Regions from separate parts of the Homo sapiens genome. Here region 2 is linked to region 1. The links come from fine-mapping of genetic effects on gene expression. A gene starts in region 1. The other region holds a variant in brackets. All regions are shown on one strand. Distances are between the middles of the regions.

Evidence for each region. PIP is the estimated chance that this variant, and not a neighbour inherited with it, causes the effect.
Region 2: its variant is fine-mapped to the expression of MXRA7 in lung (TOPMed, PIP above 0.99).

What each region holds. Positions count from the first base shown.
Region 1 is chr17:76,706,255-76,715,112 of GRCh38, reverse strand. MXRA7 (matrix remodeling associated 7) reads left to right here and starts at 4,148. Exons shown (of 4, transcript NM_198530.4): 1 at 4,148-4,508. The coding sequence starts at 4,167. It also overlaps a transcript of JMJD6 not described here. RefSeq lists a silencer at 3,917-4,126.
Region 2 is chr17:76,680,561-76,689,418 of GRCh38, reverse strand. It overlaps MXRA7 (matrix remodeling associated 7), which reads left to right. Exons shown (of 4, transcript NM_198530.4): 2 at 1,243-1,306; 3 at 4,254-4,347; 4 at 8,540-8,858. The coding sequence ends at 8,552. Among named protein-coding and RNA genes, the nearest start is that of MXRA7, 26 kb to the left of the region's middle. RefSeq lists enhancers at 2,028-2,823, 4,806-5,350, 6,444-6,990. The variant G/A (reference allele first, on the strand shown) is at 3,748.

The sequences.
Region 1 (8,858 bases):
TCCTTACCTTCCTTTCAGTTTTCTATCAACAACTCCTCTAAACTTCAGTTTAAAATAAAAAACAGCCCAAAAAGGCTCTTTGCCACCAGGGGGCGTGGTAGGACACGTTGCCAGTGGTCTGGATAGGGGAGCAGAAATTTTGAATTTTAAAAATTAGCCACCAAGGCCAGGTGCAGTGGCTCACACCTGTAATCCCAGCACTTTGGGAAGCTGAGGCAGGGGGATTGCTTGAGTCCAGGAGTTCAAGACCAGTCTGGGCAACATAGTGAGATCCCATCTCTCAAAAAAATAATAATCTAGAAAATAAAGATTAGCCACCCAGTTTTCTTTCTCCAGATGCTAAAGTTGATTCCTGTTTGATAACAGTATTCCAGAAATGAGGGGAATAACATATCTGATAGGCCCAAGTCAGCTCTGGATAGTACAGTGTCTGGATAGTACAGATTCTGTGCTCCTGGGACATGCTTTGTTTATTCCTGCCAGGCCAGGGATTCAGCAGCCCTATTCCCCAACCCCCGTTACTGTCTCTGTGGGCTAGCCAGGCTGTCCGTTATGTAAGCACAACAGGGGCAAGGTGGGGAAACCGTGTGTGGAAAAGGAGTGGAGTGGTGGCGGGTGGCCAAGGTAGACTAGGAAGAGTGGGTACCCAGAGACCACTTGTTCAGAAGTTAACTCCTCTTCCCATCTGGCGTGAGCTACTCCATTGAATGGTGCCAACAACAGTAAAGTGAAGGAGATAATGTTAGATTATTTTCAGGGATGATTCTCCAAGATGACAGCAGATCTTAAAACCAAAGAGCTGGGTCCTGGAAGAAGGGATCTTGGATTATTAACTTCTGATGGAAGGACCAGAGTGGGAGAGAGAAGAGTTGGGGACCTAGAACATCAGGAGGACCCTGGGTCTTTGGGGATGAGGCTTCACCATCAGCTGGAAGAATCCATGCTTCACACACATGCCTCTGCCATTAGTGGTACTGGGATGTTTAGGGTGACATCCTTGAGGGGAGAGCCACTGAAAAGAGGGACATTCACATTTTGCTGTATTCTTGCAGCTGTCCGTGTCTTAATAATTCAAGCGTTCAATAGGTGTTTGAGGGCCAGGCACTGCTCTTGAGGTGCTGGAGATAACGGTGACAAGCCCAGGTCCCTGACAAGCTCCACAAGCTTAATGGACAGTGAATGTGCGGCTGTTGCGGCTGTTCACAGGGCCGCTGGTGAGGGCAGGTAGAAGAAAGTGCAGACCTTCTTAAATGCAGGTGTAACGGATCTACATGAAAGAGCATAATTAACACCAATGTATACTTAAGGTAGTAACAGCTTCTTCATAAAGTAGCAAAACTAAGGATCTGTGGGAAGGTTGCTGGTGCAAATGCTTTATAAGCTTACTAGAGACTGAGCCTTGGATTTAGGACTTTAGACGAGTATAGGATGGAACAAAATTTTTGCAGTAAATGTAAAAAATGCTGTGTAGGAGGAAGGCGTATAAGGATGCCCCAGCTGTAGGTTCTTTAGATTGTCTGTAGTATTTCCACGAGTAAGTTGTTTTTGATGTGTGTACTGGTATTGCTGGTAGATTTGAAGTGGAGTCTGGCGGCTTCTTCCACACTCCCCTCCCACTAGCTTGTGTCAAGATGTGACATCCTATGCAGCAAAACTAGGTGAGCTTGCACCCCCAGGCGGTGGCTCTCAACTTTGTCTCATTGTTCAGAAATTTCGGCCAGGCGCCGTAGCTCACCCCTGTAATCCCAGCACTTTGGGAGGCCATGGCAGGTGGATCACTTGAGGTCAGGAGTTCAAGACCAGCCTGGCCAACACGGTGAAACCCCGTCTCTACTAAAAATACAAAAATTAGCCAGGTGTGGTGGCACATGCCTGTAGTCCCAGCTACTTGGTCAACTCAGGCAGGAGAATCACTTGAACCCAGGAGGCAGAGGTTGCAGTGAGCTGAGATCAAGCCACTCCAGCCTGGGTGACAGACCGAGACTCTGTCTTTAAAAAAAAAGAAATGTCATCTAAGCCCCAGTGAACCTCCTGGGAGGAGAGCTAGCCCTGGCCAGCTGTCTCCAAAGTGACTGGATGCTACAGAAGAACTGGGACTGTCTTCTGCACACTCGTGCCTCCTGGAGTTGTCAGAACACTGAGCAGTCTCCTAGTTCTGCGTCCGTCTAGCCATGGGGTCTGCCATGAAAGCCTGTGGATCTGCTATTGGGTTGGTATTTTAAACTTTCACTTGGGTGAAACTTGTTCATCATTTTAAATAAAGCAACATGATTTGGAGTTGTGTTTTTGGCATTGTTTTGTCCTTATTTTCTTTCTTACTCATTTGAAAGTCAACAATGTACTTTGTCAGCAGAACAGGACTTTAAAAAAATGTATTTACACTTTAAAACAATGGGATGGAGCACAAAATTAAGGCCCTGGGCCAGGAGCATTGATGCACACCTGTAATCCCAGCTGCCCAAGAGGCTAAGGCAGGAGGATCACTTGAGCCCAGGATGTCGAGGCTGCAGAAAGCTATGATCATGCCTGTGAATAGCCACTGCACTCCAGCCTGGGCAACATAGTGAGACCCTGTCTCTTTAAAAAAAAAAAAAGAAAGAAAGACCCTGTCTCTTTAAAAAAAAAAAAAAAAAATTGGCTGGGCGCGGAGGCTCACGCCTGTAATCCCAACACTTTGGGAGGCTGAGGCAGGCAGATTGCCTGAGGTCAGGAGTTCAAGACCAGTCTGGCCAACACGGTGAAACCCTGTCTACTAAAAACAGAAAAAAATTAGCCGGGCATGGTGGTGGGCGCCTGTAATCCCAGCTACTCAGGAGGCTGAGGTGGGAGTTTCGCTTGAACCCGGGAGGTGGAGGTTGCAGTGAGCCGCGATTGCGCCACTGCACTCCAGCCTGGGCAACAGAATAAGACTCCATCTCAAAAGAAAAAAAATAGGCCCATACACTGGCTGAAACTTCCACAGTGGTTAAAAGCTAGTCGCCCGTAGATAAAGCCTATTTCACATTTTATAGTTTATAGGCTCTTTTCATCAACCACCACTAAAAGGAAGTGCATGGCCCGCTTAATATCGTGCAGTGCAGCAGAATTCAGCTCTCCCTGTTGCTGAGGGGTCTCGTTTGTGTATCTTCATTTAAAAAGAAGCACTCCATCTAATATCTGGTTTATATCACAGATCAGCTCAGGCACTGTAATATTCCCAAAAAAGTATTAAAGGCATCCTCAGCAAAAACTGGAACCGTGTTTTTTTTAACATTAGGCCTTATGTTTGGCGTGATACCTGACATGCCCGTCCTGTGTTTATTTAAAATAACTAAAGAGTGGGTGGGGAGTGGTAGGAAAGTATGTTTTTGGTTACAACGTGTTTATCTCAAAATCCACTGTTCAGCAACAGAGGCCTGGGAGGATCTGGAGAAACAAAAACAATAGCCTTCATTTCCTTCATTGTACCCTCCCACCCTGCATGCATTCTGGAATTGTGCAAAGAAGAAAGTCTGGTAAGAGGAATAGCGTTGACCAAGGACCTGCAGCTGAATTTCAGGTCTAGGGGCGGGGGAGCCATGTTACTGTTAACAGGGAGGCCTGTGTTGAAGGCTGCTGGCCTCAGCTCCGAAGGGAGCATTCACTGGCCGGGATCTGGAGATGTCCTCTGTGAAAGTGCATTAAGGCAACCCTGAGGATTAAAAGCAACTCCTGACATGCCTATAAAAACGGCAGTGGCTGAACGTAATCCGGCATTATGATTGCTTTACAAGCCAATCCAGGCTGCCGTTTCCATGAAGCTTCCCGGGTTTGCTTGTCTCTCTGCATTCCCACATTTCCAAAATGCTCTAAGACGAACCGCCGTACTAAGGCCAAAGATGACAACCTAAGGGCACCTCATACAGTATTTCAAATTGAACCTGAGCTAAATTGTGCCCCAAAGCGTCAAGGCTGCCCAGGCCGGGCAGGGGTTGGCCCTCCTGTGCCTCCCAGGTGGTCAGGGCTCTGCCCCCTCAACACCCCCGCCCGCAGCCTGTGCGTCACCCTCCCGGGGCCGGAGGGGGCGGGGGCGGGGCGCGGCGATGGGGGCTCCGCCCCGAGGCGGGGCGCGGCGACCGGGCGCGGCGACGGGGCGCGGCGGGCTCCCTCGGGGTCCCAGCTGGCCCGCACTCGGCGGCCGCGGCGCGATGGAGGCGCCGGCCGAGCTACTGGCCGCGCTGCCTGCGCTGGCCACCGCGCTGGCCCTTCTGCTCGCCTGGCTACTGGTGCGGCGTGGGGCGGCCGCGAGCCCGGAGCCTGCCCGCGCGCCCCCGGAACCCGCGCCCCCGGCCGAGGCCACCGGGGCCCCGGCGCCGTCCCGCCCCTGCGCCCCCGAGCCGGCGGCCTCGCCCGCGGGGCCGGAGGAGCCTGGAGAGCCCGCGGGGCTGGGGGAGCTCGGGGAGCCTGCGGGACCGGGGGAGCCCGAAGGGCCAGGGGATCCCGCGGCGGCGCCAGCGGAGGCGGAGGAGCAGGCGGTGGAGGCGAGGCAGGTACGCACCGGGGCCCTCGCGGCCCCCTCCCCACCCCCGGGGCTCCGGCTGCCGCTGCCGTTCCCCGCCGAGCCAGGGAGCGGGGCCGCGGCCTCCAGCCCAGGCTGCCCCCAGGAAGCGCAGAACCCGCGGCCCGCAGGAAATGCAGGTCCCGCCATGCTAAGCCGCAGCCCCGCAAACTCGCCGCCCTCCCCCAGAAAGTGTGGCGAGGGGCGAGCCCGAAGGAGTTTGTTTGGAGGTGTTTTGCTCTCCCCTCCCCTCGGCCTCTCCCAGCCCAGGGCGTGCTCCGCAGCTGCTGGCTCCCAGGCCTCGGGACCAGGGCTTGGAATTTTGCTCCTCACCCACTTCTGACCCCTCCCGCCCACCGGTTCCCAAATCCACGTGCCTGTGGCTTATTTCCAGGCCTGCCATGAGAGTTATCTTGATGTTTAAAAAGTAGGACTTTCGGGGGGCGAGGGAGGAAAGCTGGCTTTTCTTTTTCAGCCAATTTGAAGTCCAGATTTCAGAGTCAGTGCTGTGGCGTTTTGTGAAGCCCGTGGGCTGGGACTGAAAGAAAAGGCACCCGATCCCAGCAGTCCTTTTTATTGTCGTTTTCAAGCTACACATCTAACACCCTCCTACCCCCACTCCCCCGGGTTGTAGGTAAGCTGGGCCTGGATGGAGTGAAGATGCAGGATAAAGCCCTCCTGGAGCACCAGTGAGCACCCCAAAGCGGCCCTCCCTGCCTCTGCCCCAGGCCTCCCGCCATGCTGTCCATCAGCTCGGCCTTGGCCACCTTGTCCTGCCTGTGGATATCTGAGAGGAGTCGGATTTCCCTCATCCACTCATCCCAGCCCCTACACTGTGTGCCCATGTTCCCTGGAGTTCACCACGCTTGGCCGGTCCAGGCCACCGCCAGGGTCTCCGAGTCGGATTGTAATCCCTTGTTCTTACCCCTGAGCTCCTTTTCTTGGAAGGGAGGAGAGCCGGGATGCGCATTGTCAGCGTGCCTGCGTGTCTGCGTGCCCACTCTGTCCTGTGCTGGACACAATGGTTTACCCTGGAGAGAAGCCCTTCGGGGGAGGAGGAGGCAGCCAGGCTGTGCTCAGAGGCATTTCTCTTTGCTGAGTAAGTGCGCCAGACCCCCTCTGAGCAGGCGCTTTGCTTGACAAGTGGGTGACTAATTGTGTCATTAGAGAGGATTCTAACCAGCCACATTTAATGGGGTGGAGCAGGGGCAGGCCCTGCCGTTCTTGCTTGGGGTGGGCTTCCAGACCTCACGCGGTGATGGTGGAGGGGGCGCGGTTTGGACATGTGCTGATCTGTTGTGTTTGCTCCCATATTTGGGATTCCTGCCTCCATCGAGGTCTCGCGGGAGCAGGAGAGGCCTTTAGACAGTTCTGGAGCCGTCATGCACACTCAGTCAGTCCTGGCCTTACAGGGCTGGCCCTTTATCACCCACACCAGGCTCTGGACTGAAGTGCAAAATGTCCTTTAGCGGCGCCCTGTCTTAGCTCAATCCTGTGGGGCACAGCGCTTAAAGAACTTTCTACAAGGCTTTCGGCTCTCAGCACATGGTACCTACAGGAATAGGTTCAGTGGTGTTTAAATAGGGCCACTCGCATAATTTGCCACTGTCTGGGTGAATGCACGTCCTCTGAAGCTGAATGGGTGCTCTGAAGGACAAGGCAGTATGGGGGTTCGCGTGCCAGGCAGCCCCCATGACATAGGTGCCAGTGAGGATGACTTGAGGCTTGTGTCTGTCCTCCCGCTAAGGCACCCTCCAGAGAGAACCCACCCCACAGGAGAATTCAATTGAAGTCAGTGCCCTTCCCCTTTGGGTTCAAGTCCCCAGGCCTTCCTGAGCTGGCCAAAGCTCCCCCAAAACTCCTGCCTGCAAACATTAAGCCAGGTGCTGTGGGGACACAGATATTGTGTCATCCCACCCACTCCCAGTGGTGGCATTAACCTAAGAAGCTGCTTAGAAATTGTCTTGATGAGCTTCGAGTCAGTGACAAGAAAAAAAAGAAAGGAAAACAAATTGTCCTGAAGTGGACTCCAGCGTTTCCAAGAGCTTCCAGTGCTTTCTTCTGATGATCACACTGCTGGGGCTTGGAGGACAGATAGGGAGAAAGGCCCCCTGGGGAAGATAACTCAAATCAGGGTTGGGAAGTGGGGCTATGCCCTCTGCCAGCCTCCTTCTCCCTCCGTCCCTAAGCGAACCCCACCAACAGCGAGGGAGGAGGGCAACTCCACCTGCTGTTAGCTCGGAAGTCACTGCCCTGGGGAGCAGCGTGTAACTCACCTCTCCCCTCCCTCTTCATTTTCCATTAACTGCCTCCTTTCTAATCCAGTCCTCTCCCTTCCCAGGGAGGCCTGGGCGGGCTGGGGCAGCTGCTGCCTCTGACTACAAAGCTGATTATTGAGAAGGATCTCTCGCCCCGGGAAGCAGCCTTCAGCTGCTATTGGGGATCGCTCAGGAGCGTCCCCTAGTGCACGGTGCCCTCTTTGGCCAAGGACAAAGTAGTGGGGAGGGGCTACTATAGGCCGAGACCCTGGAAATGGACCAAAGAAATGGGGATGAGATCAGTGCAGCTCTTGCTTCCCCAGGGCAGCACAGGCCAGGGCAGGGAGGCTGAGGAGAAGCGGAATGATACTGCTAGAACCTCTTTTCTCTCCTAAGGATTAGCACAGGGTGGGCTGTGAGGAAGCATTATAGGCAAGGCCTGTTCACGCAAAGAATCATGAGCCAACGAAGTCAAGAACAGGAGCCGGCCTCTTTTCAGGCCAGGACTCAGGGCTTTCTTGGTGCTCCTGTGTAGGTTGGGGTTTTAGGATTGCCAGGCCTCTTACCTAATGGACTTGTGGATTGGAGCAAGGCTGGATGGTCGGATTCCCAAACATTGGTAATTGGCAAAGCGTCAAGGGTCATTTGAATAGCACTAGAGTTAAATTTCTTGTCTGTGCCAGGACTCAAGTATCTCGGTACTTGGGGCCTAGCTCTGCTCATAGACAGACTAGAGCCCGGGCGCGATGGCTCACACCTGTAATCCCAGCACTTTGGGAGGCCGAGGCAGGAGGATCACCTGAGGTCAGGAGTTCGAGACCAACCTGGCCAACATGGCGAAACCCCGTCTCTACTAAAAATACAGAAATTAGCCAGGCATGGTGGCGTGCACGTCATCCCATCTACTCAGGAAACTGAGGCAGGAGAATCACTTGAACCCAGGAGGCTGAGGTTGCAGTTGAGCCAAGATCGTGCCACTGCACTTCAGCCTGGGCAACAGAACGAGACTCCATCTCAAAAAAAAAAAAAAAAAAAAAAAAAAAAAAAGAGTAGGGACTTCCTGCAAGGCAGTGGGCCGGTGTCATGAAGCACACAGAGACTCTTCTAGATTTAATTGGGATTTAGGAGATTAAAGCAATATGACAAATAAATACAATCTTGATCCTTGATTGGATTCTCCATCAGAGAAGGGAGCTATAAAGGACATACTGGAGATAATTGAGACATTTTTTAAATGAATGGCTGTGTTAGGTAAGCTTATTGAATCAACGCTGAATTTTTTGTGTACGATACCGGCAGATGGCTGTGTAAACAATGTCCTTATCCTTAGGAAGATGCAGGCTGAAACATTTTGGGATGACATGTCATGATTCAAATAGTTACATGCACACACACACACAGTGTGTGTGTGTATAGAGAGAGAATGCAAAGATGGCAAAATGTTAACCATTGGTGAATCTAGGTGAAGGGTGTATGGTATTCATTGTATTATTATTTCAACTTTTCTGTAGGTTTGGAATTTTTCAAAAGAGAATGTTGGAACAAAGAAGCCAACATTCTTCTTTGGGAAATTTCTTGGGAAAGGGGTTGGTTTTTCAGACACTCTGGAGGTGGTGGTCTGAGTGGGTAGCACAGCCTTCATCTGTCTGTCTTAACCATGTGACTTGGCCCTGGTTCCCCTGAAGTCACCCTGCTGTCAGGTCCACCTGTGTCCTCTGCCCTCACCAACCTGTTCACCATAGGTGTGGGCTCTGGAAGCTACAGAGACCCCAGCCTTCCCAGAATGACCCAGGAGCAGGTGAACTTCCCCATCATCTCTCCTGCCTTTGTGATGGCAGTGTGGTCCTTTTTGATGGCAGTGTGGTCCTTTTTGATGGCAGTGTGGTCCTTTTTGATGGCAGTGTGGTCCTTTGTGATGGCAGTGTGGGCCTCTGTGACGGCAGCGTGGGCCTCTGTGACGGCAGCGTGGGCCTCTGTGATGGCAGAGTGGGCCTCTGTGATGGCAGCGTGGTCCTTTGTGATGGCAGCGTGGGCCTCTGTGACGGCAGCGTGGGCCTCTGTGACGGCAGCGTGGGCCTCTGTGA
Region 2 (8,858 bases), 26 kb after region 1:
TTTTGTGTAGTCAAGGAAGTCCCTCAGGCCAGGCACAGTGGCTCACTCCTGTAATCCCAACACTCTGGGAGGCCGAGGCAGGCGGATCACCTGAGGTCAGGGGTTCGAGACCAGCCCGGCCAACATGGTGACATGCCATCTCTACTGAAAACACAAAAAAATTAGCTGGGCTTGGGTGGCGGGCGCCCGTAATCCCAGCTACTCGGGAGGCTGAGGCAGGAGAATCGCTTAAACCCAGGAGGCAGACGTTGCAGTGAGCCGAGATCGCGCCACTGCACGCCAGCCTGGGCAACAAGAGCCAAAACTCTGTCTCAGAAACACACTCAGAAAAAAACAGAAACCAAACAAACAAAAAGTCACTCAGAGGAGCTCAAGGCCCCTCTGGGTTTGCCACTTCCGACCCGCTGTGGGGCTTGTAAAAACTTTGCCTCCCGGCACAGCTCAGTGTTTTGTTAGGGAGCCTCCCGTGAGCGGCCGACGCTGGCTGGGCTCCATGGGATCAGCTGGGGCTGCTCATTCATTCATTTCCACATCTACCCACTGGGCTTCCAAGTTGAAGTTCCTGGGGCTCCCATGTCCCCTCCCCATGACCTTCAATCCCACAGAGCCCATGGGCACGGCACGTCGCTCTCATCCTCTGACATTCCTGCAAGCTGAAGTCACTTCTTCCTTCCACCAAGGCCATCCCGGGCCATTCCTCTGATCATCTGTTTATTGTGTCTCTGTGTGGGAGAGAACTGGCTGAAGAGGTGGGGCTCCAGTTTTGGGAACATGGACACTGAGAGAGTTGGGGATGGAAAACAACATAGAAGGAAGCAAAGCCAGAGGCTGCGATGGCCATGCTGCCTGGCCCTGGTCCCAGACAGACACCCCAGCCAGCTTTCCTCTTGCACCCTTTGTCTGCTGGCCGCAGCGTCGCAGTGGGAGTCCTGGGCCCACTTCTCCAAATGGCACACAGAAGCCTCAACAGGCACCCACCTGGGAAAGGCCAAGGCCGAGGGCTTGGGGTGCACAGTCAAGAACACGCCTCAGCTCAGCATTTGTGAGCCGAGTCACTTTGGCCCATCGTTTGTACACAGCCCCCACCTGCTGGTTGACCATGACCACAGGGCAGGCGCTGCCACAGGGCGTGGGCAGGCTGGACCTTCGAGGGCCTCCTCTGTCTCCCCTACCTTCTGCCCCCCCACCACTTCCCATCACCCAGTCTGTGCCAAGGGCACTGACCCTGTCCTTGTCTTGCAGGAAGAGGAGCAGGACTTGGATGGTGAGAAGGGGCCATCATCGGAAGGGCCTGAGGAGGAGGACGGTGAGTGGGACCTCTGCGCTCATGAGGGGGCCTGACAGTGTCGGGGGTGGTCTGTGTCCTGCTGGGGATCACAGGAGCTGGGGTTCGAGTGCCGAGGGGAGGGATGGGGTGGGACAGTGGCCTGAGTGGGGCATGAGAGGTAGAGTCTGGCGCCATGGATGTCCTGCCCTGGCCTGCCTGTAGCCCTCCCTCACCCCCATTGCACTTTGGGGCTTGGCTTTCCCATCCCGGGGCCCCTCTTGGGAACACACTACACGCCCTGCCTGGCTCTGTCCTGCGCTGCCTCCTAACTCCCCTTTTGTGACCGCGCTGTACATTTCACGATTCTCTCCAAACATCTCTGACCTATTTTACTGAGACGAAAACCACTCACACGGCCTCCCCCGTGCCTTCTTCAGAACGAAGGCCCCAGGAGGGCACACGCCTGCTTTCTAAGCAGCTCTGGCTGACTGGCCACAGGCCCCAGCCATGAGACTGAGAGGAGAAAGGGAGTGACCGAGAACAGGGGAGACACTGCCAGATCGGACCCGGCCAGGACAGACAGAGGCGGAACCAAACATGGAGTGGCTTCTGCTGGGTCCATCCACTTATTTCTCTAAAAAAGAAAGCGGAGGCAGACATGCAAGATGTCAGCGTTTGTTGGCTCTGTGTGGCAAGCACAGGGAGGATTAGTGCTTTCTGCATTTTTGTATGTTTGAAATATTTCATAATTTTAAAAAAGCAAGTCTGCTTTTGTGATGTTAAGTCGGCTGCTGGCAGGAGCAGTGGAAAGAGAAGGTTTCAGGAATGTAGGAACCAGCTCCTGCGGGCAGGCTGGGCTGGGGTGCAGAGCTTCCCCTGAGGCAGTGCCTTGGTTTCCATCAGCACAGCCTGAAGCAGGAGGGGAGAATGAAGCTTGGGTGCAGGCGGTGGGCTGCAGGTGGGGACATTAGTCCCTTACCAGGAAGGACCCTTGCTCCCTGCTTTTGGGGACTGGGGACTCACCGCAGCCATGGCCCTGGCATCTGTCCCTGCCATGTGGCCTGAGACAGCTGAAGGGATGCAGGGATCCTGTTAGTGACTTGGGGACACGGGAGGGAGGCCCTTTGGCAAGGACAAGGAGAGAGGCTCGCAGACCCCTCTCCCTGGCATAGCTGCCAGAGGGCACAGTCCCCCAGCACTGTCACCAGCCTCCCCCCTTATCTGCACCGCTGCTCCTGAACATCCCCCACCCCCAGCGCCTCCTGCCATCTTAGCCTCCTGCCATCTCTAGCAAGGCAGGGAAAGGAAAGGTTTATGGCTCCAGCTGTTGGAAGAATGTGTGAGCACCTCCAGCCCCTCTGCAGTACGAGGCAGCCTCAGAGGTTAATTATTAGTGTCGCTAAAATGACTTCCCTGAGCGACTAGGTGAATTCACAGGAGACTGGAGGAAGAAACCTCCCCCGTCCCTCGGAGGCTGTCACGTTGAATTCTGGTCTAGCAAAACTGGATGCGCTGCCTGGTGCACTGCATGTGACTGAGCGAAATCCTTTTCAAGTCGTTTGTTCTGTCTGGCTCAGAAAACAAAACTAATCAGACTTGCCCCATAAATTGAAACCTAAGACTGGGACCAAGGCAGGATTTTGTATGTTTTCTTTTTTTGGGGGGTAGGGGGATACTGGAATCTTACTCTATTGCCCAGGCTGGAGTACAGTGGCGCGATCTCGGCTCACTGCAACCTCTGCCTCCCGGGTTCAAGCGATTCTCCTGCCTCAGCCTCCTGAGTAGCTGGGATTACAGGCGCCTGCCACCACGCCCGGCTAATTTTTTGTATTTTTAGTAGAGACGGGGTTTTGCCACATTGGCCAGGTTGGTCTCGAACTCCTGGCCTCAAGTGATCCACCTGCCTTGGCCTCCCAAGGTGCTGGGATTACAGGCATGAGCCACCACACCCAACCAGATGTTTGGGTTCTGAATTCGCATCTAGAACCTTCTTCCTTTCACCCTGAGAGCCCCCCCGCCTCCCCATCGGTCCACATCAGCCTATCCGGTAGCATGAAGGCTGCAAGCTAGAGGGGAGGGGCCTGGCTTTTCGGGCTGCTGGACAGGATATGGAGGGACAGAGAGGGCAGCACTTCCAGAATAGCAGCTGAGGATCTCTCTATGCCTCCCTCACTGGGTCCTTTAGTTAGTGGAGGTCGATAAGAGGCCAGCCAGCTCTGCCCGACACCTGCTGGATTCAGGAACCAAGAGGTTGCTCCCCCATGGGGCTTTTCCCTCTGGAAGCTCAGCTTTTCTCTCCTCACCGTGGCTCATGTGCCCGGAGCCTGTGTCCACTCCAGGCCACAGGTCCTGGCTTCCTCTGTGCCCACCACCTACCCATCCATGTGCCCTCTTCAGGCCTCGAGATCTGTCCGTTTTTTGCAGGCAGCAATGGGGGGTCTCCCCTCGGGGACTGGCAAATCGGGCTCTGCCTCTTCAGC[G/A]GTACACACGTCAAACCTGCTGCAGCAAATCCCGCATCCCTGGCCTGGCCACTGTGGGCTGCCTGGATGCGTGTTTTCAGATTTCCAATAGCCACAGGGGGTGGGGGGATGACACAAGCCTCCCCAAGCCCAGGCAGGCGTGGTGTGTGTCCCAAGATGAGCTGTGCTCTGCTTGCCGGAGTTGTCGCCTCTGAGCTCAGTAGCCGAGAGGACCTGCTGGGCAGGGCCAGGGCAAGGCAGAGCACTGCAGATGTTGGGAGGGATGTGGCATCTGGAGACAGCTGTGGACTAGGAGTAGGACTGCTTTCTCTCTGGCTGTCTCGTTGTAGGATTTAAGGGAAAGCTATGGAACGAGAGGGGGTATAGGCGCTGGGGTGAGATGTCTCTGATAGCCAGATGTGGCCTCTGCTTGAGGTGTTTCTTTTTAAACCTAGGGAAAGGGGGCCGGGGTTTGTGGGGCCAGCCTCTACAGCACTCCTGGCACTTACTGGGTCCCCCCTCCACAGGAGAAGGCTTCTCCTTCAAATACAGCCCCGGGAAGCTGAGGGGAAACCAGTACAAGAAGATGATGACCAAAGAGGAGCTGGAGGAGGAGCAGAGGTAGGCTGCAGCCCCTTCGCTGGCGCCTGGCGGGCTCTTGGGGGAGGGGGGTGCCCCTCTGAGCCCTTCATGTTCCTGCCCCTTGGCAGAAGGGCCCAGAAAGGAGGTGGGGCTCCTACACGCTCTGCCCAACCACCGCCCCACCTTCCCAGTTTAGGAGTTCTTTCCTGCCCTGGTCAGCCAGGCTCGCACACCCCTGGCACCCCTCCCTGGCACTGACCAGAAGGAGGCCACTGGTGATGGGGGATACAGAGCCCATTTACTGCACCCCCCCACCCCCTCCACACCCCACTGCCCCCATCTAAAGAAATGAGATGCCAGGAAAGAGCCTGGAGCAGACCTGGCTGTCACTCACACACACAGTCCCCAACAGAGCTGATTTCTCCATTTCTCCTTCGGGACACAGCGGATTCTTGGTGCTCATCCTTCAGCGGCCTCCCAGGCCGGCGCCTGCAGCAGCGCCTTGTAGCTCCGGGCAGTGCAGCTATGGCTTCTCGTTGTTGGAATTGGCTCCCCCTTCCCATTTGGACACCCCCTGCACAGCCACTGGGCACCCCGCCACCTTTTCCCTCCACACCATCCTGCTGGGCGGGGAAGGGGTGCGCTGGGCACAGTGGGACAGCTGGGGAGGTCTCAGCAGAGGGACAGTCCTTTGCACCAGGCGCAGCAGGCTCCTGGTGCTCACCCACACTGCTGCCCTTCTGCAGCGTGGCCTGGAGTCCTTTGGTTAAAGCAGAAGTCTAGGTGGTAGCTGTGCCATTTTCCAAGCCTGGCGACCCAGAGCAGCTTGTGGGAATCACCCCCTACTTGTCAGCAGAAACCAGCGGTCTAGGGTCCGAGCAGGAGGGGTGGTTTATGATTTTGGAATCAGAACTCAACTGCCCTCTCATGGCTGCATGCCAAGCCACCCGCCGGGCAGCCCTCTAACCTCACAGCTGCTCTGCCGGTGACAGGCCCTGTCTCCCCTCCCGCTGCTGGCATCAGCGCTCTCGACCCTCAGCAGGAAAGCTCTTCACCCTGGGTGGGTGGGGGGCGGGCAGTGTAAGCACAGCCAGGAGGAAGAGCCCTGGCAGGAGCCCCGAGTCCTCAGGTGCTGAGGATGCTGCCGCTTGGCATGACCAGGTTTGCTGCATTTATATTTCAGGATTGAGCTGACCTCTGACCTCACTTCCCTGTAGCAAGTTCCTTAGGTCCTGAGCCACAAATATTCTTGCAAATCCTTTTGGTAAGGACACTGATTTCTTAGACTAGTGGTGCTCCCCTTCTACTGCGTGCTAACGTGCCCCCAAACAACTGACGCGGCCTCAACCTCCCCTCCTCCATCGCCTTCATAACCGATTAATACATTTCCCACCTGAGCCCTTCTCATTCTTCTCAAGCACGAGGAATCTCTGGCAGAAGAGGCCCCGTCTGGGGGCAGAGGTTCCTGGAGGGGAGTTAAGTCCCTGAGTTCCTGGAGGGGGCCTAATGGGCCGGCAGGTTGGGGTGCTAGCGCCCCCTCGCAAGGCTGGGGGAACTGTCACCCTGGGACCTCAGGCTTCGGAAATGTGGATGTCGTCACCCTGCAGCCTTGGGTCTCACCCTGAGAAGATGAGGCAGCTTCTGCACAGTGCACAGCAGATACTCTGAGAACGGTCCGTGCTCCCAAGCTGTGAGACAGGCAGGTTCTTAGGATCAGGGCAAGGGTTAGCAGACAACGGCCGGGCCACATCTGATCCCCCACCTGCCTGTGCCAATCCAGCGTGGCAGTAGTAGCAACACTCACCCATTTTCCTGTGGTCTGTGCCTCTTTGTGCCGCAGTGGCCGAGGTGAGTCACTGCAGCAGAGACCACACAGCCCCCCAAATCTAAGTAGTATCTGGCTGTTTGCAGAAAAAGGTTGCAGTCCCTGGACAGAGGCTAGAGGGGGCTGGACACAACTGCCAGCCCTTGAAGGTCCCTGGGGACAGAGGCTGCTCAGGCAGATGGATCTGGAGGGCCTCTTAGAACAAGAAAGACCAGGCCTCCGGCTGGGGGTGAAACTGCCACTGCCACCCACGTCCAGAGCTGGGACCTTGGCAGTGGGGAGGGAAAATCCCTTCCCCTTATTTTCAGAGAGTAGACCCTCTGCTGCCCATCCTTCCCCCACTGGATCTTTGGAGGTCTCTAGACCACCAACCCACACTTGGCTGTTCTGTGGGACCGAGACTGTGCCCGAGGTGCTGCTCCTGGGACGAGGGAAGACTCCTCGACTCCTCTGCATGCTGCAGTTACCACTTTGTGCCCTGAATTGAGAAGGAGGGGCCGGAGGACTTCTTGGGGCAGGACTGGAGTTCACGTTCATTCCCATCACTGCCCAGCCCGCATGCTCCCTGTGGCTCCTAGGCATGCCGGTGGCATCTGCTTGCTCCCCCACACCTCTGCCCCCCTGCATGTGGTTGCCCCTCGCAGCACTGCGTGGGGTCTCCGCGGCTCCACATCACGCTGTCCTCACACGGTGATGCTTGGGGTTGCAGAGGCTGGTCAGTTTGGCTTTGGCTCTTCATCTTCAGCACGATGGTTCTCATGGGGGTGGGGAGCGCTGGCAGCTGTGAGACAGTTCTGGTCCCAGCCAAGTCCAGGGAACCGCCCTAGAATCATCAGTATGAAAAATAACATGCCTGTTGTTATCAAACCACTAAAACCACAGGCCAGCTAGCAGGGTGCTCTCTCTCCGCCTGTCAGGTTCCACCCTCCCGGCCTCCATGCCTCTGATGCCTTTCCCAGCTCTCAGGGTCCAGTCGAGTTGCAGCTACAAGCTGCACGTCCCCTAACTTTAAATTTACTAGCTCAGCCAACAGATCTGCATCTAGAACCTGAAGCTTTAGTGGTTGCCAGTTCCAGCACTCCCCAGGAGCTTCAGTTCACAGGCTCTCATGACAATTAGGAAGTGGGACTGGAAGCAGAAGGCCCCCAATTAGTTCCCCGACATGCTGAAGTGGTCAGTCTCATCCTTGAACTACTCACAGATCAAATTCCTTCCGCCTGGGGCCAGAAAGCGGTCAGGTCTGTAAATCCAGAGGCAGCTGCTGCTTAAGATCCTGCTTGCCACTGTCTGCCCGCCTCCTCAGCTCTCCCCTCGGGCCGGAGTTTCACACACTTCATGCCTCTGGTGGCGTCCCTGGGTTCCGCTGAAGCTGCTGTGGGAAGTGCCACCTCCAGTTTCACAGTGTGGCTAGGACAGTGGGCTTGCAGGCTGGTGACAGCTCCCCTGAGCAAGAGGCCTCCTCCTCCTCCCCCAGAGCTAGGGAAGCTGGCAGGGCTTGGCTGGCTTCACAGCTTGGCAGGAGAAAGAACAGGCGCGGCTGTCAGCTCCTCTCCATCACTTCTTCCCACCTTGTGGTCTCAGAGGGAAAATGAACCCAGGCTATAGACTGGGCTGGCTCTGATAGATCAGGACCCACCCCTCCATTTGAGGTCTGCAGGGCTGTCTTGACTCCTCTGGAAATGGACATGACTCTAGAGGAAGGTGCTAGTGTGGTAAAACAGGGAAGGGGAGGAGGAGGCCAAGGAACCCCAGCTGTGGGGTAGTTCTGGTTCTTCCATCTGATGTATGCAAGAAACTACAGACAATAGACCTGCCAGTGTGAATTTCCAGCTCAGGCTGGAAATGCGTGCTGACTGTGACCACCAGGAGAGGGCGTCAGAGGGACAAGATCAGACCTGCTGGGTTCTCAGTGGTCCCAGGGCTGGCAGTGTGTCTTGGTTCATAAAAGACGGGCATGCAGTTGGCTCCATCTGGAAGCGTGCATCCTAGGGTGCCAGTATCCCCCGAGGGGACAAAACTCAGCCAGCGGGAATGGGAAATTATCTAGGGTGATAGGAATATTGTCAGCACAACCACACAACCCAAGATCAGAAAGGCCCTTGGCAACTCAAATGCCCAAGTTCCTTCCTTAAGTACCCTGCAGAGGCTGAACAGGGTCTGTGGGCTGCCAGGTTCTGTGCGGGATCAAGGGGAGCTCTGCAAGCTCTGGCCGGCTTGGCGGCACAGACTGTCTTGCTGCAAGCGATGAGAAGCAAATCAGCAGTGGTTTGAGAAACCAGAGTCTAGCGCAGCTTCTGCAATTCCAAACATTCTCCTTCCTCGTCCCCATTTCCCCCTTTCCTTGCCCATGGTGCAGGATGGAATGAGTAAAATAAATTATCTTTTTCTCCCCATTTCTCTTTACAGAACTGAAGAATAACGAAGTTATCCTTAGCGTCCTCCTAAAGGCTTTTCCTTTTGGCATCTTAAAAGCTTGAGAGATAAAACGGAAACCCCAGAGAGGAGTCTGGGCAGGCTCCCAGGGTGCATGCTGCCTCCATAAATCTGCTGAGCTCTAGACCCTCAATCAGGACTTGTCCCTTGGCTAGCAGGATCCTGGGAACACCTTTGGCCCTGCCCTGTGTAGAGATGTTCATGTCTGTTCCTGTGGGTCACTTTGTTAAGCTGAAGAGTTTTAAGAGGTAGAGCTCAGACCCTGGACTGGGATTTTTCTTACCACTCAAAC